Regions from separate parts of the Homo sapiens genome. Here region 1 is linked to region 2. Evidence: fine-mapped QTL for protein levels in blood plasma. A gene starts in region 2. The other region holds a variant in brackets. All regions are shown on one strand. Distances are from middle to middle. Region 1 overlaps ZFPM2 (zinc finger protein, FOG family member 2). Region 2 holds the start of ANGPT1 (angiopoietin 1).

The links. PIP is the chance, under the fine-mapping model, that this variant and not a neighbour inherited with it causes the effect. Protein levels are from antibody-based Olink assays in UK Biobank. Linkage for the fine-mapping came from a reference panel and not from the study's own genotypes, which makes the PIPs less certain.
Region 1: its variant is fine-mapped to the plasma level of the ANGPT1 protein (UK Biobank, PIP above 0.99).

The regions. Positions count from the first base shown.
Region 1 is chr8:105,559,594-105,575,774 of GRCh38, reverse strand. ZFPM2 (zinc finger protein, FOG family member 2) reads right to left here. Exons shown (of 8, transcript NM_012082.4): 4 at 14,294-14,412. Among named protein-coding and RNA genes, the nearest start is that of ZFPM2, 250 kb to the right of the region's middle. The variant T/A (reference allele first, on the strand shown) is at 6,475.
Region 2 is chr8:107,491,375-107,507,555 of GRCh38, reverse strand. ANGPT1 (angiopoietin 1) reads left to right here and starts at 9,638. Exons shown (of 9, transcript NM_001146.5): 1 at 9,638-10,294. The coding sequence starts at 9,998. RefSeq lists a silencer at 5,939-6,139.

The sequences.
Region 1 (16,181 bases), 1.9 Mb after region 2:
GCTCATGATGACAGTGAATTGAACACTCATTGTCAACAGAATAAAAGTGACCTAATACATACTCTGACAGGTTTCTTGAGTTTGGATATTTTTTTTCTTTTTCTGTCTTTTTGACCTGGATTGACTAATCACAGATTATGGAGCAAATGACTTAAAACAGCATCTTGAACCTATGCCCCTATGACAGTCACAGAATTTTACCATTAAAATATTTCATTAGAAAATCTTCAAGAAGCAGCAGAAGGTTTGGCACTGAAGCCTTAGGATCCCATTAAGGGCCTCTGCCATATTCCCTAGCTCATCTAGTCCAAAACAGCACACTCCACTCCCACGGAGTCTCTCCAAAGCCATTTTGAATCCTCTTTTCCCTTATCAGGCTGATACAGACCTGCATCATCCTCGGAGCCTTCTGACAGGGGCTACAACAATTGGGGAAAGGGAGGGGGGTGATACAACGGCTCATTGTTTCCTTTCACAAAACCCTGCCACAGGGCGCAGATTAACACCAAAAAATAGATGGCTGCAACCAAAGAGAAACATTTTTCAGAATGCCTCCACTTGATTAATGAAGTAATGGAGCCGACCACTGTTTGACTTTCATCACGCACTCTTCCTCCCTCACCCCTTCTCCTCCCGGAATATCAGCAGAGGCGGGGGGACACTTGTGCACATGTCTGCCTCCTTTGAAGAGTTGTCATTTTCACAAAGTTTTGAAGAAATGCACCAAGAATAACACTGCCTAGGTTTCTTGCTGAAAATATTCAGATAAAGGACAAATTTTCTTTCCACCACTTCTGTACTTCTTTAATAAAGGCAAGTGCTATTTTTTTTTTTCCTATAGGAGCTGAATTTAACATGTACTTGGGTCCTGATGCCTATCTCAGATGCACACATGGATATAATTGGGTACCTTTAAATGCACTAATATGCTGCGTGTGCCTGGGCAGCAGTGGCTTTCAGAGGAGAGGTGGTAATGCCGCATCCGAGATTAGGATCAGAACCTGAGGGACTCTTACTGCTCCTGTCTGCGGGGTAATGCTTACACTATTACACATAGGGTAATGAGGTACAAATGGTATTTGTTTGACTTCTTAATAAAAGCTAAAACTTAAGGCACGTGACGTGCCTCTGCTCTTCCAAAACTCTGTCCCCATTTCTTCATATTTCACAGTACATCACTGTCTGCATTATGACTGCCTTATTCACTCCATTCTGTATGGAGCTCTAAAATGCCATAAATAATGAAAGAATTGAGTTAACATTTTAAAATACAAACCTAACTCAAAAGTGAATCAGACAGGGTAAATTACTTTTCCAATTGTCTGAAATCCCCAATCACACACCTGAGAAATGCTTTCTGAAGAATAACTCCCTACAAAAAGAAAACTCAAAGAAGCCAAGATCATTCAAAAGGCAGTTTGACCACTTAACCTTTCTTTCTCTTCCTAAAAATATGTGTTTTTCCTCTATGGTGACTGTCTGCTTAGATGATAAATGCACTAAGTCCATACCGTTTACTTATCTAGGCTATGAGTTCTCAGAATATTCATGCCAGCTAATCAGTAAGCATGTGTGTGTATGGATACGTGTGAGTACACGTATATGAAGCTATATTCGTATGACAACAAAACCTGCTTTTTAAAGTATGTTTAGGGAGAGAACAGAAGAGAAAAGACTAGATGCACTGCTTGGGGAATTAAAGGAATGAATCATTTACTTTCTATTCACAGGCATAATAAAAGGAATCCAGGTTTGTTTAACAATCTGTATGTTTTTCAAAGTGACTAAATGCGTATAATTTTATATAACTTTACAATTCTATGTTGTAGGGCTGGTATAATAACCCCTATTTTATAAAAGAGGAAACTAAGAGCATGTATGATTACCCAAGATAGCACATCCACTTTGAGTAATAACAGGACTAGAATCAGGCTGTTCTGACCCCATCACGGGCTCTTTCCCATACTTTCTCTCCCACTTTTGATCTTTACAGTGTGTGGGTGTATATTTCTCAAAATTACCAAAGGAGAAGAAACACTCAGCAAACTACTTTTGATCCCCAATTCCCACCAAATTTTTGTACAAATCACGTTTTGTATATTTTAATTTGTCTTTATTGCAAAATTAATATCTAAATAAATTAATCAGGAAGCCACTGATCACAGATGTGAGAAACCATAAATATTTTAATGAATAATAATAAAATATACCTCATTTTCACAAATGTCTTTTACTTATTAATCTTTGATTTTGGTTATGATGCTGTATAGCATACAGTTTTGTTGTCTGTATTCAAGTTCACTGAATTTTCTTTTGTGATTGCTCCCATGGCTCTTGGTATTTGAAAGTCCTTCCCTATCCACAGGTCAGGTTAACTACTTATGCAAATTACCTTCTGTGGCAGACAGCCTCTGAGTTGGCCCCCAGTCATCCCAGCCTTCTGGTTTCAAGCTCTGCACAATTCCCTTCCCTAGAATTCAGCAAAAGTGATAGGATGCCACTCCCATGATTAAGTTACCAAAGCACTGTGGCTTTTGTCTTGGGCTCCCTGTCCTATGCTCTCATCTGCTTGCTCAGAGGGATGCCAGCTGCCATATTGTGAGTGGCCTTAAGTAGAGGCCCACTAGGCCAAGCACTGAATCAAGAGTCATTTGAGTGAGCATGTAAGCAGATCCTCCACTAGCTGAGCCTTCAGATGACACCAAGACCTGTCTGTCCCCTTGATTGAAGCCTTGTGGGAGACATTATGCCTGCGACAAGTTGTGCTCATTATTTTTAACCATCAGAAAAGGAACTAAAGTGTATGAGAAGAAAACCACAGACCAACCTACATAACTCTATGCTTTAGTCTGGTTTCCTGCCATTAAAAAATAGAAAGTGATACAAAATGGCACAGAAGACGCTGAAATTATTAGAATCAAGAAGCCACAGTTTTGTCAAGCTGGGACAAGGGGTTTTATGAGAAAATTGAAGTAAGAGTCAATGAATAATAAAGAACAACTTTAGGCTGGGCACGGTGGCTCATGCCTGTAATCCCAGCATTTTGGGAGGCCAAGGCACGCAGATCACCTGAGGTCGGGAGTTCTTCGAGACCAGCCTGACCAACATGGAGAAATCCTGTCTCTACTAAAAATATAAAATTAGCCAGGCATAGTGATACATGCCTGTAATCCCAGCTACTCGAGAGGCTGAGGCAGGAGAGTTGCTTGAACCTGGGAGGCGGAGGTTGTGGTGAACTGAGATCACGCCACTGCACTCCAGCCTGGGGAACAACAGCAAAACTCTGTCTCAAAAAAAAAGAACAACTTTAAATTCAATATTTAAATTAACAGGCAAAAATATGTTAATCTCCAAGAGAGTTTCTCAAATAATTTCTCAAATTTCCAAAGTATGTAATAAATATTACTTTATTATTCTCTTATTAGAAATTTATGCAAGAGGCTAGGTGTGGTGGCTCACGCCTGTAATCCCAGCACTTTGGGAGGCCAAGGCAGGCGATCACAAGGTCAGGAGATCGAGACCATCCTGGCTAACACGGTGAAACCCCATCTCTACTAAAAATACAAAAAATTAGCCAGGTGTGGTGGCGTGCACCTGTGGTCCCAGCTACTCAGGAAGCTGAGGCAGGAGAATGGCATGAACCCGGGAGGTGGAGCTTGCAGTGAGATGAGATCGCACCATTGCACTCCAGCCTGGGCGACAGAGCCAGACTCCGTCTCAAAAAAAAAAAAAAAAAAAAAAGAAATTTACCCAAGAATACTTGCCCCTGGACCACCACACAGCATCAACACAGAGCTTTATAGCAGTGGCTTGGAAAGAGTCACAAACTTGCCAATGCTAGGAAAACCTTATATGATAATAAAGGTTGTCAATGCCACCTGAGAGCTACAGTTAAATTATGAAACTTGGTGAATCCCATCCTGGGAATATTTATTGAAAATTAGATTAAAACCAGAGTCCAATATGTTATCAGAGTTTGACAAAGCATTATCCCTAAGTAATTTTGATTTTTAAGACCAAACTGAAGGAGTACAAACTGGTACCTATCTCCATTCTCTCTGTTATCATCTCCAAGTTACTGAATGTATTAATTGTCATGTCAAGCTGAGATTGATGCTAAGTCCTCATAATGCTGGCACAATATTTGTTACAACCATGTAAGCATATCCTGCCAAACTAATTGTTTTGAAATCAGTATAGAATGACAATTCCTCAAAAACATCAAATAGAAAGAATTTAAAAGGCATGCCAGACCTATCAGCACATAACAGAGGACAGTTTGGTCAACTCCATGAACAACTCTTCCTCACAGTGCTTTGTTACTTCTACCTTCCCCTCCAGGGAAAACTACATTTCAAGATTGATATTTTAGAATTTGTGTTACAAAAACAATAGTTATGCTTTACAAACCACTTCCTCACTAGTCAAGATGGTGATAGATTTCCCTAGAGAGGCAGGGATGCTATATATCCACCCACTTCCACCTTAGGCCTTCATGATTCTGTTTTTGGCAAATACGAAGAAATGACAGTAGCAATGAAATCTGCATTAAGAAAATTCATGTAAGGATCCCTATGTGTGGGAACAATCACAACTCCCACAAACAGTATCTGGAGCTATAAATCAATAGTGATTCTTCATCCTTCACACCGATCCTCTGTGGGAAAAGGTTATGTGACTCATTTGTCTCAACTTTACACACATAGAGTGGATCAGCTTTGATCATCTTATGATGACATAAACAATTCCTCCTTTCAGAAATTAATTAAATTAATAGCACTAATCGTCCTAATAACTGAAAAGATCATCTTCAACAAAAGTTCTCCTTGGAGTTCTGGGAAAAGGGAACAATGAATAATCTTGTAAAAATAATTCTTTTTAAAAGTTCAAACTTGGCCTAACTAAGGGTAAATAGGTTTAGCCATATAAACCAAAGGCCAAAATGTATTAAAATTTCAGGCAGAGGAGAGTAAGTTAGGTCCATAAATAAAATTGTCTATGTATAGCAAGGAATTGTGTTTCCACCTTTCAAATCCAAGTCCAAATGTAAAGAACCTGGAAAGACTTCACCATCAGGAGAAAAAGTAAGTCAGGATGAGATTGAGGTTAACAGGCTAGCTATACACAAAAGGTATTATTTTGGAGGCAAGTAAAAATTATCAGGAAGGGCACAAATTCAGGTTTTCATTTCAATACCATTGTGCCATATGACAATGTATTTTCATCCACTGCCAACATCATAACTATATCTGCATTATAACACAGCAAATCCCTTCAGATTAATATGCAATTGACCTCTCTGGCTTCTACATATTTCAATTGTGAAATAATTCTTCGGTGTTTAATTTCTTCCTTTCTGACTCACATTCAATAGCAGGCCTTTGATTACTGAGGCCTCCACACAAACTTCTTTCTCCTCTTTCCCTGAGTAATCCCCCTCCATCAAAAAAAAAATAAATAAAAATAAAAATCAATAAAACAACAAAAACCCTACCCTAATTCTAGAAACCAAACCAACGCATCACTTTCCAAGGCTCTGCTGCATTACATTTCTTGCCTTCAAGTCTTCTTTGAGCAGCTTTTCTGTCCACTCAGTTTCCATTAATTCTCCACATAGCAGATAGAGTATAAGAGAAGCCAGGATCTTGCCCTCCCTAAGGGACAAATCTACAACCTCCATCAATAATGAATTTCACCAATGTTTCCCAAGAGGAACAGGGTACAATTAAAAAGGTTATAAGTCCTTGCACTACTAGAACCTAAGGGCGTCTGTGAATGAAACTGGCTTAAGCCCAATTAGAGGAATCAGTACATTTGTCTTCTCTTGGAACAATCTTGCTCTTACGGTTCCCATCAATTCAGTATAAATCTGACTGATCTTATCCAAGAAGTTAATAGAAAATTGCTCACAGTGGGCGACTGCCACCTCAGTTTCCAAGCAGAGACAGATGGAATTTCCCAGATGGTTTGTCACTGGAACGTGTGAGGCTGGATGAGACTTCACAGAAAGCATGGTAGAGCAGAACACCTTCTTGGCCTTCACCCATGTCATAGTGAGGGATCTAAAACTGAGTCTGTTGTAAACAAATCATAATTGCCTCACTAGGCGCAACACCTCATCCTCCTAGCTGCATCCAAGGGTTGCAAATCTTACACCGAAATTAGTCAACTTTTCTCAAGAAACCATCATGGGCATATCTCCTTATGAGATAAAAACTGAAGAAATAGACATAGTTATCTTGTCCTACTGAAGTTTCCTCTCAAACGAGACTAAAATAAAAGTGCAAGTCTATAAACAAATAAAACAGGTACAAGATAGCATTTCCTGTGGTAATTGCTCTGCTGAGTTAGGCAGATGAAGCAAGATCACAGACGAAACAGACATGGATGTAAAGCCTCAGGAAGGATGCAGGGTCTTGAATAAGGAGGGGTGTGCAGCTGTTCCTGATATGGAGAAAAGTGAAAGGAAAAAAT[T/A]AATGTGCTGATTCATTCAATGTTATTCATTGAGCTCTTAGTATAAGCTAGACATTGTTCTAAGTGGGAAGGATAGAAAGATAAAAAATAGATAATAAGCATATGGTCTGCAGGGGAGATAGACAAGCAAACAGGAGCTCACAGTTATGTGATCAGTGCTCTTATCCTAGTAAACCTAGAGCACCAGGGAAATACTCCAAGAGTGGTTATCTATTCCAGACAGGAGGCTTCAGAGAAGGTCTACCTTGGAAGTGACTTTGAGCAGAGTCTTTAAATAAGTATTGGACTTAGTGAGATGAAGAGAGATAGGTGGGGAGGGGGGAATAGGGGTTTCCAGGAGGATAAAACAGCATGACCAAATGTACGGATGTGGAAAAAAAATGGACATTCAGGGCACTGCATGTAGTTCAGAATGCCTAAAGTCTATAAGAGAGTGGAAAAGGGGTCAGAACTGGGGAGGTGAGCATCACCTGGGGAGGTGAGTAACAGGAAGGCCTTTTTTAGGCTTTACCAAAACCTTGGGGTATTCTCGTGCCCTTTAGAATGATTTTAAAGCACAGGAGTTAAGTGACTACTGTAGTTTTGCTTTCAGGACATACTGTGGTCTGAGTAAATAAAAAGATGACAAGAGAGAACAGAAGAATATTGTAATAATCAAGAGAGAAGCGGTGGGGCTTTCGACTAAAGCAGTGGTAGCAGGACAGAAAGAGGAGAACAATCATTACGAAAGCAGGAGTTATGATGCTTGGTTTCTGGACATGAAATGGAGAGTCTTGGAAGATGTTTGACTCTGAATAGAAGGAAAAAGAGATGGTAGTAGTTACAGGCAAAAGGAGAGAGGTATGGGTATGTGTAACTGTGTGTGAATAGCATTTGAGATGTGAGAAGGAGAGGTAGAAATGCAGAAAAGACACAGGATAATTGAGAGAATGGACTCCCTGCAGAGGTACGAAAGGAGAGGCAGAGGACTAGGATTAAAGGTGACTGAAAGCTGGAAGTCATGGAAAAGAGAGGCTGTCTGTGGAGACAGGAATAAACTCTCTTTGTGACTGTGTAGTTGGAGGAATTAAATGGGAAAGCTTGCAAAACAGTTGAAATGTGCTATTAGAGAAAGGGTAAAAAGCCAAGGTTAGAGATTTTTTTATTTAAATGTCATTTGTAAATTAGTAGCTGAAGCTTTGCAAGTGGATAAGCTCCCTGAGGCACTGGGAACAGAGGGAGAAGAGAAGAAAGGCCAGAAGTGTTTTGGGAAACACTCACAGTTAAATTAAAAAGAGCTAAGACCCAGAGAGATATGAGAAATAGGAAAGTATGGTAGTCCTGAGCCCAGATTAAAATGAATATTAAGAAGGAAGATATCATTCACAATGTCAACATCAATGAAATCTGAGGCTCAACAAAAAGTCATGCCTCAGCAAAATTATAAATTATGCCATTGAGATGGGAAAGATGGAGAATATGGGTGGAGTCAGTGAGAATGTTCCTGATAAGCAAATTCAATTCGATTAGATTTTTATTTTAAAGAGCAGTTATTGAATACCGATTATGTACCAGTAGTAGAGGTCCAAAATTGAATAATAAAGATTAAATAATTCTATGTCCTCTAGAATCTCAATAATAATTTGGATATTGCTTTTAAATTTATTTCATTATTACATCTTAGAGGCTGTCTTAGTATGGATTCCCCAGAGGCTTACCCTGAGACTGATTCAAATACAAGTAGTTTACTGGGAAGTTGATCCCAGAAAATTCCAGTAAGGTTGTGGCGAAGTAAGCAGGAAAGGGAAGAGGTCCACAAAATGTTCACTATCAAGGCAATCAGAGCTCAATTCCACTGCCAAACTCTAACAGACAATATAGAACACATCTTATATCCTAACCAAGAGGAAGGGAAGCGGAGGTGTTAGTCCACCAACTTTCTGTCCATCATTGGTTGAGGATAACCTTTGGGAATAGGAAATCTCCAGCACTTCCAGCTTTCCCAGCTTGCAAGGAGTTTGCTCTTAACGCTGGAAAAAAGTGCTCAGGTAGAAAAGTCACAGGTGTGCCCACTGAGCAGCCTTTGCCTATAGAGGTGAATGCTGGAGACATAGGTAGAGATATATTTGCTACAGGATATGTACAATATGAAGCTTGAAGACTAGCAATTATTAAGATAAAAGATGAATACTGGAAAAGATAAAACTGCAAAGGGATAAATGGAGGCAATTAATAATTCTAATTATAAGCAGGTAGATCAGGAACTTCTAATTTTTTCCTTAACCACATTTCTATAAAGATGACTATCTTAAAACTTTTAAGATGCAATTTGATACATGCATTATTTCATTATTAGGTCAACAAAATATCTATAGTGCCCTTTATATGTATATTTCATTTTTTTAAAAAAAATTCAGTATCACAAATACCCTGTGGGAAAATAATACATTTTATTCTGATTGAACAGAATAAAATGAGATTTCTCTGTCAAATTTCATTTGTTGAATTTAACAGGTTGCGATGAGTTTACTATTATGTTGTAAGTAATCTGGGGCTTTCTATTTAATTAACTATGTATGTTGTATGATTCCAGCAGTTGGCTGAATCCAATCAGAATAGTTAGCTATCAACAGTTGATAATATTTAAAAGCAAGAGAGGGCAAACGCCATTTAAATTTCAGACACCCAACCTTCCAAGTAATCACTGTTGCTTGATACTTGCTAAGCACTACCACGTGCTAGCACAGCTGAGATTTAGTTTATTGCAAGGATCTTTGTCCTTGGGAGAATATGGGGAAAATCTTCAAAGGTACAACATATAAACATAGATGTTCTAAAACACATCCAAACCAGATATTGATCAGAACTTAAGGTGATTTTTAAAATTTCTTCCTCATCAGTAGTCCTTTGATTTTTTTTCAGTGAATAAAACTGCAAAACTTTCAAAAACACCAAGTTTGTGCTACCATGATAGTATTTAATATAAGTTATTTCTGAGATATGAGGTGAGATGCTGGAAAGAAAGCTGGGCTCCCTCACTGGTATCAATTTTTTCAGGGGTATAAGGTCATACCTCAAAAAACTGAAACTTGCAAGGTAGTGCAGACCTTCGGAGCCTGTGATGGTTCATTTTAATTGCCAACTCACAGGGCGTTTCTGAATGAAATTAACATTTAAATCAGTGAACTCTGGGTAAAACAGACTGCCCTCCAAAATATGAATGGGCCTCACCCAATCAACTGAAAGCCCGAATAGACCAAAAAGACTGGCCTCCCTGCAGACGAGGAAATATCCCAAAGACCGCTATCGAACTTCATCTGCACCACTGGCTCTCCCGGGTATCTCATCTGACTGAGTACTGCAGATTTTGTACTTCCCAGCCGTCATAACTGGACAAGCCAATTCCTTATAACAAATCTCTGGCTATATACGTACACATCCTGTTGTTCTGTTTCTCTGGAGAATCCTAAGACAGAGCCCTTGGCAAACAGTCAAATTTAGGCATGTAAAAATCCCCTAACGCCAAGGTTTATAGTGTTACTTGTTTAATTTAAAGAGTGCTTTTTGCTTTAAAGTTGAAAGATTTCAATGGGTTCACTTCCACAGATTACTGACTAGTAAAAGTAGTTGAAATGTGTGGATAACTCACATATGCTATCTCATTTAGTCCAAAATTCCTATAAGCTAGGCAGTATTATTATTACCACATCACAGAAAACATTTCTAAGACTGGAGCATGTGTTATGGAATCAGACTGAGTTGACCTTAGGCTAGTTATTTAACTTCCCAAAGTAGCAGTTTACGCCTCTGCAACAAAGGAGATAAATATTATCTTCTCTTGCACTTGTGTAAGAAGTAAATATGATATAAAACATGTAAAGCACTTTGACCAGTATCTGGCCCAATGAAAGTATTTACTATGCTGCTGCTGCTATTATAAAACTTTTAAAGCATGAAGTATCTACCAAGATAATAAGGTGTGGACAAAAGATACTCTATTTCTATGTTCAGTGTGTTATATAATTCCAAGAACAACTTTTTGTCAAACTAATTTGTTTGGTGTTTCTGTGTTTTTTAAAATGTTCTATATACATCTAAATGCCTGGTCTGCAAAGGCTTCCTGCAGAAGGTGGCATATTGCTAATGTACTTGAAGATGGGGACTTGAAAGATATAAAAAGGATTTGACATCTGGCATGGTGACTCAATTAATTACTGTGTTGGATTAATTAGTGAGCTGAATCTCCCGAGCCAACACCATGAGTTTGAGCAGAGTAACATTACATCAGTTGGCGAATAAGCAATTTAAGAGAGTGCGCTAATCCAAATTTGATTCAAGGTTGGGTAGGGAAGGGGTAGTAGGCTATATATTTTATTATAAGGAATATTTATGATTTCAAATACATATTATAGTACTGTCCAAATTATGAGAGGTAACAAAACTCCAGAAGTCTTTGAATTAACTTTTAACTGCTCAAGTAGTCTAATTACATAATAAATATTTTGCCCATCGGGGAAAAAAAGGTATATTTCTAATTTTTGCATACTTCCTCCCAGAGATTTTTATAAATTTATGATTCATGTTAAGAAATCATCAACAATTTTATCATGCTCAAATCATGTTACAGATGTTATACTGAGAATGCAGTGTGGCAGAGTCTTTAAAAAAGCAGACTCTCGAATCAGAAGTGAGAATTTTTATTTTCTTATCTGTAAAATATGATTTATGATAGAACCAAATTCACAGGTTTTTTGGAGGACTAAATGAGCTAATCTATTTCCATTTTTCAGACATATATGTTAACCAATTTGATGTACAGTAGTAACAGTAGTAGGAATAATAATACTAGTAGTATTTAATGATATAAACTCAGAAGTAAATTTTGGAAGAGGATGTTATTTCAAAAGAAAAACATTTGAAAATATATTTTAGTGAGGCAACTAAATTTTAAAATAAGGAAAAATGCTGTATTTTAACTAAATAAAATAATCTGATATTTAAAGCCTAAGACAAAAGAAGAAAACTGAAGTATTAAAATTGTTTTCTATAAATAATAATCACCCATTACCCAATTGTTGATAAACTTAAGAGTAGTCATGTTTTAAATAGTATCAAAAATTCTGAAAATTTCATATAAGTTAACGCCTTTTAAAAATATTAAATATGGCATAAAATAGCTTTACAGTCATATAGAACTATTAAAATAGCAAAATGACATCAACTGTCTAAAATCAGAAATTATTTCAATGAAAAATAAAAAAATCAAACTTTCTCAGACAGGTTTATCTTCTATCCATCACGATTTAGCATATGGTAAAAATGTCATAAAACTACCATTCTGTATACATACAGAGAGTAATAGCAAGATTAATCAAAAATAGCATTTTAGTAAATATATCCTTTTAATATAGTAAACTGGAAAATGTTCATCTTGCATGTCAACTATAGCTGATACAGTGTCAGTACACTTTTGAAGAAATATACAAATGATTAAAGGTTGCATTGGTATCTGATACACTGTGATAAATAAGATAAATATGATATAGTTTAAAATGTTTAGTAAGCAATGCTAGAAGACAAACAGAAACTCCCAGATAAAATAAGTTCAGAATAGCATTTAATTCAATCTTTGATGTTTAGACAATCCTTCTCTTGCCTTTCTTAACATTCATTAGCTTGAGAAATGGGCACAGTTAATATTGCTCTCTGAAAGGAATCAATAAAACAATCTGTTAATACAACTCAATCAACTGAGGCCTGCATTTTGTGGCTACATCACAAATCTCTTTTGAAGTAGCTGCACTGGTCCACCTAGAACAAATTGCCCAGAATATTAAATATTTGGTCTGGACTGTAAGGTCAACTTGTTTGGTCCTTAAATGTATGTGAAAACCCCTACTTCATCCTTTTATGGATAAATACATGAATGTACAAAGTAATAAATATACCCCTGGGATCTCATGCACTCTTTAAAAGTTTGGTAACACAAATATTTCCTATTTATTCTAATCATTACTTTTAGTTGAACCAACAACCTCTGTCACATCCACATGGTACTGAATAAACGGAGATCCACATGTATCAATTTCTTTCATGTAATAACTTGAAGAAGGGATTTCCTTCATGTAATAAATCAAAAAAGGAATGTAATGTTGCTGAACCCAGTACACCTGTCGAAACCCCTCTGGGAGTTCTTATGTCCCTTTAGCATAGATAGGGTCATTTAAAAGTCACAAGACTGTTCCTACATAAATGGCATTTAGAGAGAAGGACTTTCAGGGGAATAAATACTTATAAAATTTCTGGATCCTCTAAGGAATATGAAACATTTTTCTTCCCAAATTTCATCACCTGTGTTATCACTTATTATAAGAGAGGTTTTCAGCTATTGTTTTTCTTTTATCCCATGTGGTAGGCAGAATAGCTCCTTGCAAAGATGTTTACATCCTGACCTCTAGAACTTGCGAACATTCCTTTGCATGGCAAAGAGAAATGAAGGAAGCAAATGGAATTGAGAGTGTTAATCAGCTGACCTTAAAATAGAGAAATTAGCTTAGACGACCCAGGCAGACACAGTGTAATCATAAGCATCCTTAAATGTGTAAGAGGGAAGCAGAAGAGTCAGAGATGGAATGTGGACGTGCGAAAGACACCATCAGGCCCTGGTGGCTTTGAAGATGGAAGGGGGTCTATGAGGGAAGGGCCACGGGCAGCCCTCAGAAACTGGAAAAGGAAGAAAACAGATTCTCCTATAAAGCATCCGAAAAGGAGTTCAGACCTGCAGACACCTTGATTTTAGCCCAGTGACACCCAATTTGGATTTCTGACTTCCATAACTGCAAGATAATAAGTTTATGTTGTTTTAAGGCACAAAGTTTGTGGTGAGTTGCTGAGGCAGGAATAGCAAACTTATATATCCAATTAAGAAATAAAGTTTAAATGTAACCAAACTACCTACCTTTCCATTTATTTATTTATTTATTTATTTATTTATTTATTTATTTATTATTTTGAGATGGAGTCTTGCTCTGTCACCCAGGCTGGAATGCAATGGCACGATCTTGGATCACTGCAGACTCTGCCTTCTGGGTTCAAGCAATTCTCCTGCCTCAGCCTCCCGAGTAGCTGGGACTACAGGCACCCGCCACCATGTCTGGCTAATTTTTTTTTGTATTTTTAGTAAAGATGGGTTTCGCCATGTTTGGCCAAGCTGGTCTCGAACTCCTGACCTCAAGTGATCCACCTGCCTCAGCCTCCCAAAGTGCTGGGATTACAAGAGTGAGCCACTGTGCCCAGCCTCCATTACTTTTAAAACATCTAATTAATCAATAATCCACATAATCATGGCAAGAGATAGACTTTCTGTTCTCAGAACTTTTACAAAAAAGCTGAATAACAAAAATTATAATGCTGACCACTCATCCCTGCTTTTAAAGGTACAAACAGTATTACCAAGGAAAAACAAAGTTGTTTATTTCTTGTTCTTCATGAAAACCTGTAATGGATGACAATTTGTGTCATCTGAAAAATAAAGGCAATTTTATATATTACTAAATGTGAACAGTCTTGGTCTGGCTAAGCAGATAAAGCAATAACCTTACATATTACCTTACTAGCCACAATTTAGTATGAGTAACCTGTTTCTGTCTAAATTCTGCGTATATTACTGTCAGACACAAACCACTTGAAAAGTATCCAAGTTTTGCTGTCCACGAAAAAGCAAAAACAAATGGTTATTTTTAGTGATTTCATTGGAAAGCAAGCAGAGAGAATTTCTGAGCTATGGCAAAATACTAACAGTCGATGACAAAATATTAACCATCTCGGAATATCCACATACCAAAGAATTATTATTCAAGTCCATCTTCCCAGGAAACGGCCCCCAGGTTGTTCCCACTGGAAGTTGCTGTCGACTCTGAATTTTTCGTTCCCCATCTTTCTGAAACACCTCCAGCTCTCCTGCAGACAAAGGAACAGAAGTGTTTAGAATACTTACTTGTACTTTATCAGCAGCCACCTCTTTTTGTGTGTTTGCTTTACACACATGATATTCTCAGGATTCATATAAAGAGAATTAATTATGCTTGTCTGAAAAACAACTCATCTTAACCTGAGAGGAAAATAAAACTTGTCCTTATAAATTGTATTCAAATTTAGTCCAATTTCTTCCTTTCACCTTTTCACATGCATCATCTACTGAAGCCAATTCTTTTTAGTTAAGTCTTTAAGAACCAGAAACAGTAACACTCCCTTAAAAAGCACTGATCCAATGCCAAAACAGGTAGACAAGAAACAGTAGGACAATCATTTTGTGCTAAAATTCTTGTATTTATTCAAGACTGTCAAACAACAATATCTGGAGAGTTTTTGAAGTACTTGGTAATTTTCTGAAATTGACTACCAGTTTCAATAGGTAAAATGGCTACATGTACAATATATAGCAAGGCATGTTTTTCAAATAAAAAATGTTTAGACGGAGTTTTTACTTGTTTTTCTGTATTTGGTATACTGAATAGAACTCTATTGTACCAAAAAAATACTTTAGAAATAACCAGCTTTGGAAGGTCTTCTTCCTTTCATTTACTCCAGAGTAATATTTTGGAACCTATAAAGGGAAATAGGAAGTAAAGACAGTATACACACTTGCATAAAGTAAGAATTCATTAAATGCTTGCTTAAGAAATAAATGAATGGAATAATATACAAATAAATAAAAGAGGGCCTCAAAATTTCAAAAAAAAAAAAAACGGCCAATAGCTTAAATGTTGTTTGGGATAGGTAGAAAAAAAATCACAATCAGGACTTGCAGCCTGTCTTTAAAATAATTATATCTAGGATATTTATTCCCCAAAGAGTATTACCATGCCATATCACCATACTAAAATGTTTATATTTTAAAAATTTTATCTCAGTAACCTAACTTCATTGTGTTTTAATGTTATTTATTTTCAGCCTGATCAACAGCAGACATGAGAATATGAAGGAATGAAACAGAAAGAAATATTAGGTTGGTGCAAAACTATGGCAAAAACCACAATTACTTTTGCGTCAATTTTAATGTCACTGAAAATCCATATAGAATAGAAAGCTGAGGAAAATAGAATAGAATATATTCAGTACTTATATTTTCTTTCTTTTTTTTTTTTTTTTTTGAGACAGAGTTTCGCTCTTGTTGCCCAGGCTGCCTCTCGCGTTCAAGAGTTTCTCCTGCCCCAGCCTCCCAGATAGCTGAGATTACAGGCAAAGCGCCATCAGGTCCGGCTAATTTTGTATTTTTAGTAGAGCAGGGTTTCTTCATGTTGGTCAGGTTGGTCTCAAACTCTTGACCTCAGGTGATCCACCCTCCTCGGCTTCCCAAAGTGCTGGAATTACAGGCGTGAGCCACCGCGCCTGGCCTAGTAATAACATTTTCTAAATGCTATATGTCATGACAGGTAACATATGAAATTGTTGCCTTAATCTCGCTTTAGCTTCTTTTCAAGTTAGTAGCTATCTTTAAATACATAGATTCAATCTTGAGTTTTTTTTCAAAAAGAAACACTGCCAACCTGAGTTCAATTCTATCTCTTCTTTATTTCTCTATTTAGTGTCACCTCCTTTTAATAGTTTAAATACCAGACATTATTGTTCATGTTTTCATTATTGCTTATCCTGAAAACCAAAACTGAAGTATATAAACTACAATCAGCTAAAATATTTCGGTAGTGGTTAAATTGTGTCCATGGTAA
Region 2 (16,181 bases):
TTCGAATGCTTCAGTCTCTTCATCTGTGAAATTGGTATGATATGATTGTTTTAAGGGTTAAATTTGATAATGTATGTAAAGCACTTGACATACAGTAAATATACTGTAATTATTAACTTTTGGGGGATGGCTTCCTTTTTCAATTCTTATGACTTCTTTAGTCTAATTGGCTATCAAGTTCTATCTTCTTATTGGATTAACAAATAAGGAAATGTATCCTAAAATCAGGAAGATAATTAAGTTGGGGATTTAAACAAGCAAATGCTTTAAAAAGACTGACTGAGGGTTTATATATATGTAATGGTTAAAAACTTCTGGTCTGGGTTCAGAAAACACTGGGTTTGAGTCCTTCCTGCAGCTTCTCTAAGTTTGTTTTTCCCTCTGTAAAACGATGGTAATAAAAGGCCCTATATTTTGTTGTTGTGACCATTGTTATAGATGAGATAATGCAAGCACAGTGATTAGCATAGCTTGCTATATATATCTGGATATATCATAGACACTCAAGAAATGGTAGCTTTTATTAAACTGAGAGCAATTGATTCCTAACAGGTCTTTTAAATATTAACTCTCCTTTCCTCTTTGAACTGATATACTTTTATGGCTTTTTGAAGGATGTCAGGAAGGAATGTAAATTCTCCAAGGGGAATGCAACTCTTGAGAAGAAAGTTGTTTACTATTTCCCCAACACTCTTCCAAACGCAAGACTGAAAAGGAGTGAAGATTTACTCTCCAGATACTAAATAACTGTATTATTCTTTCCAATGCCAGAATCAAGAAAAGAGCTATTGAAATTCCTGGTCAATCATTAGTTGCAAGCTCAGGCCTTCAGTTGGGCATTTCTGTTAGTGGACAGCACTGTAAATAGGGCTATTGCAAATCGGAGCTATGACTTCCCTGGGTGGGACCGAGGGAGGTTCTTCGTGTGCTCACTGGCAGCATAAATGCAGAAGCTTCGGATTCAAAAGCATCCTTTGTATTTCTGATTAGACTACAGAATGGAAACAATCACCAAACATTCTGAACATGAGGCAAACAAATCTTGAGGAACTGTAACTACAACAGTTTTTTCCATGGATATATTGACAGGAAACATCGTTTTATTCATTTTGCAGGAGAGGATGACTCTACTCTTGATAGCACTAAGTAATATTTCCTAAAGTATGGTACATGTTCCCCTGGGAAGTGAAATATTTGGGTGGTAGCACATGGACAGATACTCATTTTCATATTGTGTACTTATTTTAATATAAATTATAACATATAATATAATATATAAAAACAAGTGCTTGTTCTTCCCAATACTATTGTTTAGGTTAAACCTAAGATATGTAGACAGTTTAAAATTGAGTTAAGGAAACTATCTAGGTACATAGTAGTACACAGGGCATGGCAAATACCATGAAGGTGGTATAAACGTAACAGAAATTTGGGAAACATTTTGCAAAATATTCAGCCTGTTCAGTGTTTCTGGAGCTAAAAGTGATCCATTTATACATATCACAAGTGGAAGGAATATTTAACTATGAGTAACAACGTGGCTATGACAATCCTTTCCCGTGTTTGAGTCATGGTTGTCTTCTATTCTTCTATTCTAGCCTTTCTTTAATTGCCACAATCCTCCCTTTAAAGATTTGTGCTATTTAGAAGAGAAAGATCAAGAGGAAAGAACAAAGACGAGTAATCAATGGAAAAGAAAGTATAAACTTTTCAGAGACCAAATAGGTTCTTTGTTTATGGTTATCATTAAAGGACTAGTCTTTATGGGTCAGTTTATGAACTAAGAACCTGGTTTAAGCAATCATATTTTTTAAGTGTTTTATGTACCACCAGAATTTATTTTCTAATTTAATTGCCAAATTTCTAATCTGAATTATAGCCTGAAGGGGAGTGAAATTTTGTTTGGAAAAAATATATAGATAAAATAAGATCTTTTCCTTATGCACAGTTCACACCAAACTGCATATTTCATGTAAGATTAATAATAGAGTGTTCCAGTTCATTTTCAGTGTATCAGAGGCAAACACATTATCTCTGAGGAAACAGAATGGAATGATATATGCCACAAGTCTAGTCATAAAAGAAGTTCTTGAAAATAAGGTCATCCAGTTGAATTGGCCAGAAATGAGTTGGATAACAAGGCATGGTGATGAAGCCATAAATGGTATCCACATTGCCCCCATAGCTCCCAGGGCATAAAATTTTCACTATCAAATGTGATTGGTTTACATGTCTGTTTGCCCTACTTGATGTTTCTCTGGTTTCAGTAGCCAGAGTATTACATTGTTACTAAATTGTCCCCAACTCATTTCATTCATTCAACAAATACCTATCCAGCACCGATTATGTGACAGGCATTCACTGTTTCAGGTGCTAGGGGGATGCAGCAGTAAGGAACAACATTGCCCTCAAGAAACCAGAGCTATTTACATGTGTATCATTGTGAACATGAGCATCCTCTCATTTTAAAATGTGCTTCTTAAATTTGTGATTTTTTAAGATGTTCAGAAATAATTTTAAACATTTAGGAGGGCAAAATGATAGGGAATGAAATTAGGTAAATGTACTTATAAAATTCAACTAAACAAGGCAAAAAGTAGCACAATTTCTGAGCACAGAAAAAAGAACTCACATTTAGAAAGAAGAACTAACATTGAGAGCACTTGGATATGGTCTGGACACTGTGCTCAGTACTTTATATCCACTATCTTATTTAATCTTCACAACGTTCTTATAAAATTGGTACTGTTATTACTGTCTTCATTTTACAGATAAGGAAGCTGAGCTTAGGAAAATTAAATGTCTTGTCTAATATCATCTAACATGGACTAGCATAGACAAGAAATTAAGAAACAAAACAAAAACAAAGCAGTCTGTATCCTCCCACCTTAACCACTATGAAACAGTTCATCCAATCTGGCAGGAGGAAAGAGAGATAAGACAGTATTACATCAGAAGTAAGATTAGATTAAGAGAGAGTATAAAAATAAGACTAAAAGAGGAAAAACAAGCAATTTTAGAAAACATTAAGGATCTTATTTCCCTCGTATTTTTTAAAATCTGAGTTTACAATGCTTGTGAATGATTCTTTTTTTAACTCATGAGTGGAGGTTGTAACAACTCTGTGACCACAACATAGTTTTTCCTCTGAACAGAAAGTCCTACATCATTGAGTTACTCTCAGCGGAGGGTACTTTGGCTACAAGAACTGGTTACAAGAACTATCCAAGTCCCACTGGGTTACCATAACCCATGAAATGGTAATTCCAGGCATTTCTTGAAATTACTTGTTCTTTTTTGAGAGTTTCTTAGAACATGTAAAATACATGTGCTTTCTGAAGTTGGAAAAGTTGAGACAGAGAGGCCTTTGCATTCTGCTCTCATCTAGGAATCAAGACTTCTGTAGGGAAAAAGAGAAGAAAGAAGGAGGCAGTTAGTAAATGCAAAGTAGTTTATATGCTTTTTATAATAAAATCTCACTGGGTCTCCAATGGAAATCCTTCTTCATTCTCGTATGAGGGGAATGTTGGCATCTGTATTTCTGCATGGTACAGTCCTCAGCTGTTTGTTTTCTTTTCTGGCTTGCGTATTTGTAGAAGTTACCTTCATTGTAGAATTAACAACTAATCTCACATTGAGAGGTATTTCTGAGATGTTTCTTGAATGGTTTTTCAACCGTGGCAATGTTCATAGGTGGCTGGAAGTATTAGGTATTATTCCACTACCACTGCTGGGATTGACTTTTGGAATCTATGGACTCTGGGTGCCTTCTATGACTCACCACAAAGTGAGATCTCTAGGGCCTATGCAAGTCTAGCACCTGAAAACTTGTAAGGGACTGGCTCTGTGTCTTCACATCTCATCATTGAGATTTAAGGTGAATGAATCAGACAGTCAGCTGGATATTTATAAAGTTCATCCTCTGTGCCAGGAAAAGGGGACAGACAGATCAATAAGACAGACACAGTTCTAGCATTTGGGACTCTGATCTAGTGTGAAAAACAAACCTGAAACAAATGACTTCAATTGCATTCACATTAATAGTCTGTGTAATCCATATGTTAGCTGTTCCCATGCTTGAAGCAAAGACCAATTCTTCAATTCCTCTTATTCACCTTTAAGAAGTCATTTGCCCCAAAGTATATATTTTACTGAAACAGATAAGACAAATTTGATCTCACTGGAAACATTATTTCACTCCAAATCTCCTTACTTGATATATCTTCCCAAGTCTCTCATGGCCACACAGCCACAAGCCTCCTCTCTCTTTCAGCAGCTCTGCCTGACACAGAATCTCTAAACCTCTCTAGCTCCAGTCCTCCACTTCTAGATCTTTTCCTGAGTCTCTTAATCCCTTCTCTCCTTTCTTAGGTAGAGCAAATTAATTCAGTCTCAGCGGTTTCCACCTTGTATATCTATAGTTTAAAACCAACTTAACAGGCTGAGCCTGGTGGCTTACGCCTGTAATCCCAGCAGTTGGGGAGGCCGAGGCTGGTGGTTTGCTTGAGTCCAGGAATTCGAGACCAGCCTGGGGAACATGGTGAAACTCCATCTCTACAAAATAATACAAAAATTAGCCGGGTACGATGGTGCATGCCTGTAGTCCCAGCTACTAGGGAGGCTGAGGTGGAAGGATCACTTGAGCCTCAGAGGCAGAGGCTACAGTGAGCTGAGATCATGCCACCGCACTCCAGCCTGGGTGACAAAGCGAGACCCTGTCTCAAAAATAAAATTAAATTAAACCTACTTAACAAACAAGATACCTAACAATTACCAGAAATTTCTGTCATCAAAAGACAGAGGAATATTTATATGATAATTTTTATTTTCCTCACTTATCTATATGCCTCCAGTCCTCATCCCACTTGCTGCAGTGTTTCCAGCTTTTTGTAGCATCCTCCCAGTTATTCTGGGAGTTCTAAATGGATATTTTGCATGTACTCATGAAGTGCCTTCAGTTACCAGATGATATCCTCCATCTTCTTCTGTTTTTGGTTTTGTCCCCTGTGATATTTCCAACTGTTGTGGATACCTTTGCTGCCTACATAGTTGAGTGAAGGTGTCTTGGCTCTGCTTCCAGGAGCTACAGCCAAGTGCCCTCCCTCCTTTTAGATAGAGCTGCCACTTCTATAGGCCTGATGATAGTCTTGATCCCTAAAAGTGCCTGAGCAGAGTCACAGAATATGGCACCCTTGGTGTGGTGAATCACATTGTGTTCAGAACACAAAGTAGGAGAATACTTTCCCACCCCTTTTTCCCCTATAAGTGGTTGTATAAATACCAGAGGACTATTTCCTTGAATCTCATTGCCTGGTGGTATTTTTGAGAAATAAATACTATTTTTTTTCATATATTTTGATTTTATTGTAGAGCAGGAGTGATGATCAAGATATCTAACAGATGACATGGCATAGGACCAACCATTTAGAATATTTCTAAAGTATAATCCGATTAATCAGATTGGCTGTTGGTAAGCATATCTTACCATACTGGTGCATCCTGATTTAATATTATCCCTGTTTTGGAAGATCATAACATGAATCTGTGAAAGCCCTGGGTTTCAGAGGAAAGGGACCTCTGAAGGGGGAAGTCACCATGTTGTTCTTGTTCCCTAAATTATAAGAAATATTTTCTCAATACTGAAGTATTGTCATAAACAATATAGCTCAGTGGGAAATGAATGTGAGCCTCACAGTTAGATGGATTGAGGATCAAATTCCTGTTCTGCCTCCTAAGAGATCATAGATCCTGGGCGATTAATCTCTATGGCTCCACATTTCTCATCAGCAAAATGGGAATAATAATATATAATATTACATAATTATGGGGGTTCTGTAAACATTAGATGAGAAAATTATTTGTTAAGTGTTAAAAAATACTATGAATTATTATTGTACTTTGCTCTTGCGTCTAACTCATTCTTTAGAATAAGTTTGGCTTTATCCTCAGTTCTTCATGCCTAGGGATTCTAGGCAAACTCACCCAACAAATGCAATGAATGTGGCCAGTCATGTAGTAACCAGATAGAGAGTCAGGAAGTTGCATCAACTGAGTCATTAATCAGCTCATTCATTTATTTGCTTATTCTTTCATTCCTTCAGACAAAGTGCATAGTGAATGTTGAGGAATCAATGATGACAAAGAGAAGATCACTTTAGCAGCTCACAGCAAAAGCAAGAGACAGATAAAAAAAAAGGCAACAATTAGCAAGCAACGTGAGCAGTGCAGTTTTGGAGACATGAGGAGAAGGTTATTGAAATTTAACACAGAGAGCATTTATTGGACCTGGAGAAATTAAGAAAGCTTTACCAAAGAATTATCAAAGACTGTTTCTTAGGATAGATTTAGGCACATTAAGTTCTGGTATAAATGGCTCTTGGTCCCTTTGGAAATTTCAGACTAAGTGGGACATTTACTAGGACTCTTTGTAAATATGAGATCAAAACCTTAAAGCCTACACTTCCTTATTCCAGATCTCTAATAAAACACAAAGCTTTTGGGTTCAAGCTACCACAGAATTCAATTGAACAGAATTGTTTAGTTCTTTATAAATATTTTATCCTTCATGGAGGTGTGGTAGATGAATTTTAATTGGCTTGTTCTTATTACTCGCTTATTATTATTATTATTATTTAGAAAGGGTCTCACTCTGTCATCCAGGCTGGAGTGCAGTGGCAATCATGGCTCACTGCAGCCTCAACCCCCTGGACTCAAGCGATTCTCTCACCTCAGCTTCCTGAGTAGCTGGGACCACAGGTCCTGGGCGTGCCACCACACCTGGCTAATTTTTATTTTATTTTATCTTGGGTAGAGACAGGGAGGGTCACCCTATGCTGCCCAGGCTGTACTCAAAATCCTAGTCTCCAACGATCCTCCCACTTCGGCCTCCCAAAGTGCTGGGATTACAGGCATGAGCCACTGAACCCAGCCCTACTCCCTAAATTTTAATGCATCCTGAATTCTGCCCCATTTCTGAATAATCAGCAACACACAACAGTGTTGCTGTTGCTTAGATGCATGATCCCAAAGACATATTATCTTTAGTGTGTCAGGATCCTTAAATGTACCTACAGTCTCCTTAACTGGAGTTCCAAAAACACCGGAGTCAATTCTGCACATCCTTGTGTTTTCTAATTACTTAAAATTCATCTTCAGACATTTTTTTTCAGAATGACACTAGTACTTCCAGTGTTATGGTTTAAGGTTGATTTTGTTTTTCTGCAAAAGAAATAAATCAGTCTCTACATTTTTCTCTGTCTCTTTGTCCCTCGACCCCTCCTTTTTTATTTGCATTTCAGGCTTCTCTTTCTTAGTGTCTACTTTTCCCTCAGGAAATTGTGCATTCCTGCTTTTCATTTATTCTAATTGCGAAAATTCACATGGATAAGGACACAGAGACGTACACAGACACACACGTGGAGGAACAGATTTTTAACAGTCTCGGCTATTTAAAAACACAGGAGCACTTTAATAGAAACCTCACCACTCATCCATTAGTCTTCTGCCAATTTTCTGCTGTATTTAGTTCTTCGCAAAACACTTCTAGGTGTCGGGTTTGGACTCTCTTCTTTCCATGGATAATTTTCAAATCAAGCATTATTGGAAAGTGTTCTTAGACAACCTGCATTTTGCCAGTGCACTTCATCTTTGTGGCTGTGCATAGGTTACCTGTCACTGTGTGTGTGCGTGTGTGCGTGTGTGCGTGTGCGCGCGCACGCGTGTGCTGGAAAAGGCCTGAATCACTTTGGAGAGATACTCTGGTTTTAACAGTGCTTTTTCTTCTAGGTACGTCACTTCTCCTGGTTTAGGACTGTAAATCAATGCAGCTGGAGCGCTTTTGAAATTGCTTTCATTCCTTGCAGAGATTTCCAAAAGCAGGCTGGCCTGGTGGTTTGAAACAGGCTCTGAGTCAGTTTGCCTGAGTTCACATACTGGCGCCATCACTTGCCAGCTCTGTGAATTACATCCTGTTAGCCTTTCTGTGACTCAGTCTTCCCATTGATAAAATGGGGTTAAACGGATGATATCCGTGATCTTAGGTTTGTTGGAATGATTAAGTGAGATAGTGTGTAAGGAGTGCTTCGCCTGGAAAACAGTAAGGTCTTAATGCATGCCATTATTATTGTTGCACAGGAGTGATACATGACTCAATGAGGAGACACGCAAAAGTTCAAGAGGCTGCAAAAGTGGTTCAAATATTTTATTGCTGTGTTTGGCATAACTTGCTTCCATATCTGTCCAATCAGAAATTTGTTATTTGGTGTGGAAAGGACTGATGAATCTCGGCAAGGTTTCTTTCCCCAAGTAAATCGCATTTGTTCTGGAATTTGTTTTGACCTCTCCTCTAACTTCTCCCTAAATGCCCATCTCTAACCACTACGGACCTTCACCCACTGCCCTGTTCTCCTTCCAAGACATGGGAGATGACAGCTGTGGCTTCTGTTTTCACACCATGACTGCAGTTGTCTAAAAGCCCTCCCAGTTCCTAATGAAAATCCCAACTCATAATTCAGGTTTTCTGCATCTAGTAAAGATCTCAAAGCCGTTCCCTAAATTCTACAATTATTGCCTGTTTATGTTTATGGGTCCCTTTGTTCAAATGTTTATACGCTGCCTGTGGGAAATCATCTTCTGATAATTTTTCTTTCTTCCTTCACAGAAGCACAGAGATGTCTCCTGTACAGCCCATTGCTGGCTGTTAGCACACCTGATATATGCTTGTTCTCACATAGTATGTCTGTGCAGCCACAGGAGGTTTTTATGTGGAACTTCCACACCAGTGTTAAAGACAGCCATAGCCACCAAAGAGATCCTTGTAAAATACAGGATTAGGATATACCACAGGAATTAATAATTCTCAAGCCACTGCTTTAAATTGTAGCCACATTGTTTTTGTAGGGAAGTTGCTCAATTTATATACACAGAACATGAAGGGTTGCATTCTGATCAGGACACCAGTTTCATTTAAGAACCCTATACCAAAAGGTACTTAGATAACCCTCTTTAATATGCACATACTATATTGCTTTGTGCAACATATTGCTTTGAGCAACAAATGATGCTAATTTTCTTGCTAATTTGATCCTCTCTGATTATTTTCTTCAACTCCTAAAAGTCTAAGTGAATACAATGAAAGAATACCATCTGTAAAAACTGTTTTTTAACATATTTTTCCTCAGAGTCAAGAATACATGTTTTTTAAAGACATTTAATAATGATATGGGTTTATCATTCTCTATCAAAAATAATTCCATTGGACATTATGCCAATTTTCTTCTTAGGGTCCCTCGACTAAATAGTAACTTTAAAAACATACTGCTAGTTTGCTATATTTTAGTAGGTCAGCATGCACACCAAAAGTGTATTAAGGTGGACTGCTCTATTTATTGATTTGCCATGAATCTGCTAAAGGCTCAAGGCAATTGTCTGTGGAAAGGGGCGGGAGGGCCATACATGATCGAGGTCATGCGCATCTAGCCAATTTGTAAGACGATCCCGCCGCCCTAAGCCATCAGCAATCCTTAGTATAGGGGCACACTCATGCATTCCTGTCAAGTCATCTTGTGAAAGGCTGCCTGCTTCCAGCTTGGCTTGGATGTGCAACCTTAATAAAACTCACTGAGGTCTGGGAGAAAATAGCAGATCTGCAGCAGATAGGGTAGAGGAAAGGGTCTAGAATATGTACACGCAGCTGACTCAGGCAGGCTCCATGCTGAACGGTCACACAGAGAGGAAACAATAAATCTCAGCTACTATGCAATAAATATCTCAAGTTTTAACGAAGAAAAACATCATTGCAGTGAAATAAAAAATTTTAAAATTTTAGAACAAAGCTAACAAATGGCTAGTTTTCTATGATTCTTCTTCAAACGCTTTCTTTGAGGGGGAAAGAGTCAAACAAACAAGCAGTTTTACCTGAAATAAAGAACTAGTTTTAGAGGTCAGAAGAAAGGAGCAAGTTTTGCGAGAGGCACGGAAGGAGTGTGCTGGCAGTACAATGACAGTTTTCCTTTCCTTTGCTTTCCTCGCTGCCATTCTGACTCACATAGGGTGCAGCAATCAGCGCCGAAGTCCAGAAAACAGTGGGAGAAGATATAACCGGATTCAACATGGGCAATGTGCCTACACTTTCATTCTTCCAGAACACGATGGCAACTGTCGTGAGAGTACGACAGACCAGTACAACACAAACGCTCTGCAGAGAGATGCTCCACACGTGGAACCGGATTTCTCTTCCCAGAAACTTCAACATCTGGAACATGTGATGGAAAATTATACTCAGTGGCTGCAAAAAGTAAGTGATTGCTTTCAGTTTCTAATAGCACGGACCTTTTTCCTTTCTTGCACTGCAGCTAACTTAAAGTTCCTTAGGGGAGCATTTGTGTATTTACCTTTTGCTCCAGGGGGGCAGTGTTTGCAATTGCAAGACGGCTGTCTGGGTTTGGCTTCCTGGGTAAGCCAAGGTTTGGGGGCTTGCCCAAACCTATGAATGTGTGGGGGCACCCCGTTTGTGTGTCTAGCCCTGGCAAATTTTATGACATTTTTGGTTTCTCTTTTCTAAAGTTCAGCATTAAGGTTCTCTCTGTCAAAACACTACCTTAAGAAAGAAAGTATGTACCTCTTAAGCAAGTTGGTGAAAAATAAATAATAATGACAATATTAATTAATAAGATCAAATCGATTTTGCACCAGAAAATTTTGTGCCGCTGGGGTGGCAAATCATCACAAAGTATTTGTTTTTTTAACCTTTATAAAAATTAACATGAAGTGAGAGTAAATATAAAATATGATATTTGGTTGGAGAAATTGTATATTTATGTAAAGGGAACTGTTAGTTTCAGCAAGTGGTAGAATAGTAGACTGATTTCTGTTAAATATTTTTTTCTTCTGTCCTTGAGAAAAAAAATTAAAAAGATACATTGTAATGTTAACTGTCGGAAAGGGGTTGCTCGCTCACGATGAGGGCATGCTGGCTGTTGAGGAAGACATGCACCTGCAGATATGGGCTGAACGCAGCATGTAGTCTACTATATTCCTGAAATACCTCCCTTCTCAGGGCATTGTAGTTAGAGACAGTACCTGGCGAGTTTAAGTATCCATGTTATTTGATGAATGTTAATGTTGAGTATGAATGTAATCTCAATTTATAGAAATCAAATCGAATAGTTTATCCAGTTATTTATCTACAAACCATTTAAGTTTTTGTTGAAGATAAGCCTATTAAATTATGAACACACTTCTGCAATTCATTCTGTCTTTGCACTCTGTTTAATAATAGGCAGCCGAGAATAAGTATATTCAACTGACTATGCTACTAGAAGGGAGGCAATGTCTCAATTTGTGAAAAGCTTCTCTCCCTTGTTAATGGATTCACTTGGTACATGTAGATAGGTATGCAATCAGGCTTCTTTAAGTTAGTCTGTTAACCGGGCAATCCCTTTAAAAAGATAAAAGATAGGGAAAGGACAAATGCTCTATTTTGTTCCTGTGTGGTCACACTCACTTAGGTCATTGCCTGCTGAATCATGCCAAGTAATAGTTATTCTACTTTTGTCCACTAGGGACTGAACTAAGATCACTGTTATTTTATTTGACACATTAACTGGAACTTAGTAGTTCTACAGTTTCCAAAGCTGATATTGTAATCTTTCTATTACAGACTATAGGACTGTAATAGGCAATCAGTAGGTAGGCAGAAGAATAAAAAGCAAACAGAACTCTCAGGTTTTTTACAATTGTAGCTGAAATTTTATGCATTACTTTCAGTAGTAGTTTATAATAGGATGTTTGTATTTTTCTTTGGTAAAATTTATTTCCATTGTAAACAAATGATTTTGGTTGAACAGCTTGTTATTATTCTTCAGTACACCATCCGTATAGTTTTTAGTGAGAATTCAATCATTACATATTAGTCTGGATTCTTTGAGGGAACGGGAAGGAAAATTTAGTCCCAAGTTATCCTGAATGATCTATTCTACCAAAAACGTAATGTTTTGTTTGCTTAAAGCGTATAATCACAATAGTGATTCAAACATAGTAATGCATATTTCTTGTTGCTATGCAATTATTCAGCAGTGACAGGGTAAACACATAATTCTGCTGGGCTTAAATCATGCACGTGTTTCATATGTTAATTTATTTTGCAAAATAAATTTGATTCTTGTTTGCATTGTTCTTGGTCAATGATTATGGGATAGCTTTCAGATTATAGCCAAGAATAACTATTAAAATGTTCTTTGGTTACATTCACCCTTTCAAGTGTAAAAATCAAGCTGAATATATGCTGAAAACGTCCCTATTGGTATGAGTCAGAGCAATGTGGCTTGACTATTGTCAGTTTAAATTTGCATATCTTTTGTCATTGTCAATGTGATTGGTTGGAGGATCAAGAAACCAAAAAATGCATTCAGCAAAGAACTTGCTAAAGGCTTTCATAAGTTTCCCTTAATTAGGAGTTTTCTTCACTCCAAGTTCTAAACTTCATGTGATATTTTTATTCTGATAATTGAAATGGAAATCTTTTTACTGTAACCATTTGGTATGCTCAGTACTGCAATTTGTATTACTTCTATTTTGATTCCAAGTAGTTGCCATAGGAAGAAGCAACACCCTGCAGAAACTGAGGCTATCAGTGTATGTAGGTGAAATTAATTTATCCATTTATTTGGCAAAATAATTAATCAAAGCATAGTGATTATTATGCAGCTCATGGCATCGCTATCAGGAAAGGTTTTGAGGCAGAATAGATGTGTTATCAACTCTAAATGAAGCTATATGATAATTATGTTAATCCATCACCTTCCATGAAGGGAAACCTCCTTCCTCAACTTTTCTGGTCTTGCAACTGAACAGGATGAGAAGCAAGGCATGCAAGGGGGCAAATGATTTGTGGGTCACCATAAATACTGGAACTGTTATGGCACTGCTTTCTTGATGTGATGGATTTAATTCAAAGAAATCAACTTTCCATAATCACTTGTCGATTAAAATGAGGTAGGTTGATAGCATTATTGTGACATCTCAGACCAGGAAGGGTGGTGTGAATAATATGCCTAACATCATAGTTTTATTTTGTGAAACACCTGGGTGTGTTTCTGGTTTGATCTCTTCTGTAATACAGCTCTTTTTGGAATTATTAGCAAGTCATAGTAAATACCTGAGAGTGACCAGCTCTTAGATAAGTAATGATAAATACAGCTGGCCTCTGTGTCTTTGTCACTTTCTTATGATCTCTCCCTACCTCTCTATGACAGTGAAACATTTAGCCCACATCCTGTACTTTGTGAACTATTGTTTTCTGTCTCCCACATCTCAAAAAGTTCACAAAGATGTACATTTAAAATATTTAGATTTAAATATGTATAATGTTCTAAGATTTGGGGAATCCTTAGAAGATCTGTTTTGCTTTTGCCAAATGATGTCTTTTTTTGTTAAAAGTTTAAATAAATTGAGTCAATAATGCCTTGTAACAGAAAACAATAGTCTATTTGCTATACATATTTTACACTAGCTAAAATTGATGACTATTAATGGAAAATATAGTTATGAATTGCCATCCAGAATATTTTAAGAAATACAAAGATTTTACTGGACTATTTAGCTGTTTTTCTATTGACAACATTTTTTGGTTAAGGATGTCCCCTATTTGCATATTGTATTCTTTTCTTCAGAGTTAAGATTTGAAATGCTATTACCCAAAACACATTGATGATGACGATTTTTTTAAACCCATATATTACATATATATTAATCCCTATTAATATCCATTAGAATGTGACCTCCATGAGGCCAGTGACCATGTGTGTTTGTCCAATGTCATAACCTCAGTTCCCAGAAGAGTATATAACATATTTATAACAGATATGCAATAAATATGTGTTAAATGAAAAAATGAATGCATTATCTATTGCATTCTGCACTTTACTGTCTACTGTCAGCATTTTATTCGAGGTATACACCTTACCTCTTCAATAGATTGTAAGTTGTCCTATAGGCAAGGACTATAACCTATGGTTATTTTTGTCCTAATACTAGTTAAAACAATATTGGGTCCAGAGTAGGTGGTTATTAATTATTCAAATTATATTTAACCAGTAATCTAGAATCTCAAAAACTTCTCTAGTCACTCCAATTCATCTTCTTAATTATTCTTTAAGGGTCAGCTCTGTTGCCAGTTTCTCCAGGAAATCTACCCACACTCCACTTACCCTCCCAGGCTGAGTTCTCAAATGTCATCACAGTACATTGACTGTATCATGTTAATGCTGTAGTTCAAAGTTGTTGTGGTGGTTGTTTTAATTGTTTGTTTCTAGGCTTGTTTTCCCACCTAGACTGTGAGTTCCTCAAGTGTAGTAAATGTCGCTTATCCATTTTTATACCTCTGAACATGTTCATTAAGGGTCTGGATTAATTTTTTGTTATTGTAATAATCAGTTTTTAAGAAATCAAGTGCTCAAGTGTATAGTGGTAACTATAAAATAGTGAAAATTAAGGGACCTTGTAACTACTTTAAGATGCTAAAGTCTGCTTAAATGTTAGCACTAGGCTACTTGAGGGTCAGCTAGATATTCCTTTGTACAATAATGTTTTGTACTTCTATAAGCACAAGAACTTAGTATTTCTTGTTCAGTACAGTAGGGAGCCATTTACTGCATACATCTGTATAATATGTATATATCTGTATACTATATGCACATGAGAACTTAATTATAATAATATGCATCTGTATAATATGTGCACATGAGAACTTAATTATATTAATATACATCTGTATAATATGTGCACATGAGAACTTAATTCTCACTGGTATATTATTGTTTTGGTGGCCGGTGGTGGCTGTGCAACAGTCAGAGAGAATGCTCTTATGTTTTATTTTCACATTTGTGGGAACTTCCTAAATGTGTGAAATGGGTACATATTGGCCGGGCGTGGTGGCTCACACCTGTAATCCCAGCACTTTGGGACGCCAAGGCGGGCAGATCACCTGAGGTGAAGAGTTCGAGACCAGCCTGGCCAACATGGCGAAACCCTGTCTCTACTAAAAATACAAAAACTTAGCTGGGCCTGGTGGTGTGTGCCTGTAATCCCAGCTACTAGGGAGGCTGAGGAAGGAGAATGGCTTGAACCCAGGAGGCGGAGGTTGCAGTGAGCTGATATCGCACCACTGCACTCCAGCCTGAATGACAGAGCGGGACTCCATCTCAAAAAAAATAAAGTAGATATTTAGTAAGTATGATTTTAATAATTTGTCACTAAACGTGAAAATAAGATACATGCACAATTTATGCCTAGAGATTGGGAAAAGTAACAGTTGCTGAGAAAGATTAATAGAAATAATGATCTTTTAAATCGAGTTGTAGAAATGTCCCCATCAACTTCATTTGAAGAATAGACCTCTGATTTTCAAGCCAAGTAAGAGCCCTTCAGAATCTGTATTAACTTTTCAACAAATAGTTCGGTATTATTGGTTGCTTGTTACATTTTAGAATCAAAAGATCCAAAAAAAACCCTTTCAGACCCAGAAGTTAGGCAGTTAGTGTTATAACAGCCTTTTGGTAAACTGTCTCCATTGAGAGAGCTCAGGTTTTAGGGCTATGACAAGTAGGTCCTTTTCTATGAGTTTCTATGGGCAATTACAGTTCTTCCTTACCCCTGACTGTACCATTTCACATTGAGCTTTCTTTTAATAGCACTCCTCTCATATAAAGGTATTGGCTTAATGTAATTTAAATGAATAAGAATGTCATTTCCCCCCTTAAAATCCTCCTACAACTTCTCATTACATAGGAATAAAATCTGAATTCTTACCAGGAGGTCTTATATGATCTGCCCCACACCTCTCACTGGCCCCATCATTTACTACCTTCAAACGACATTCCAGACACTCAAGTGACATTGGCCTTCTTGTTATTTCTCCAACAGACAGGCTCATTCCTGCCTCAGGGACTTTACAAGCTGTTTACTCAGCTCAGAAAATTCTTCCCCCTGATCTTTGCATGGTTGGCTACTTCTCTTCATTCAGGTCTTCACTCAGCAGTCTTCTCAGAAAGTCTCTGAGCACCATTACCTACCACCTTCCCCACTTTACTAAGAGACTTTCTACCTTATTATACTGTTTTATTTCTTCATGGTACTTGCTACTGCATAATGCTGTGTTACTTATTGTCTGTCAGATTATTTAT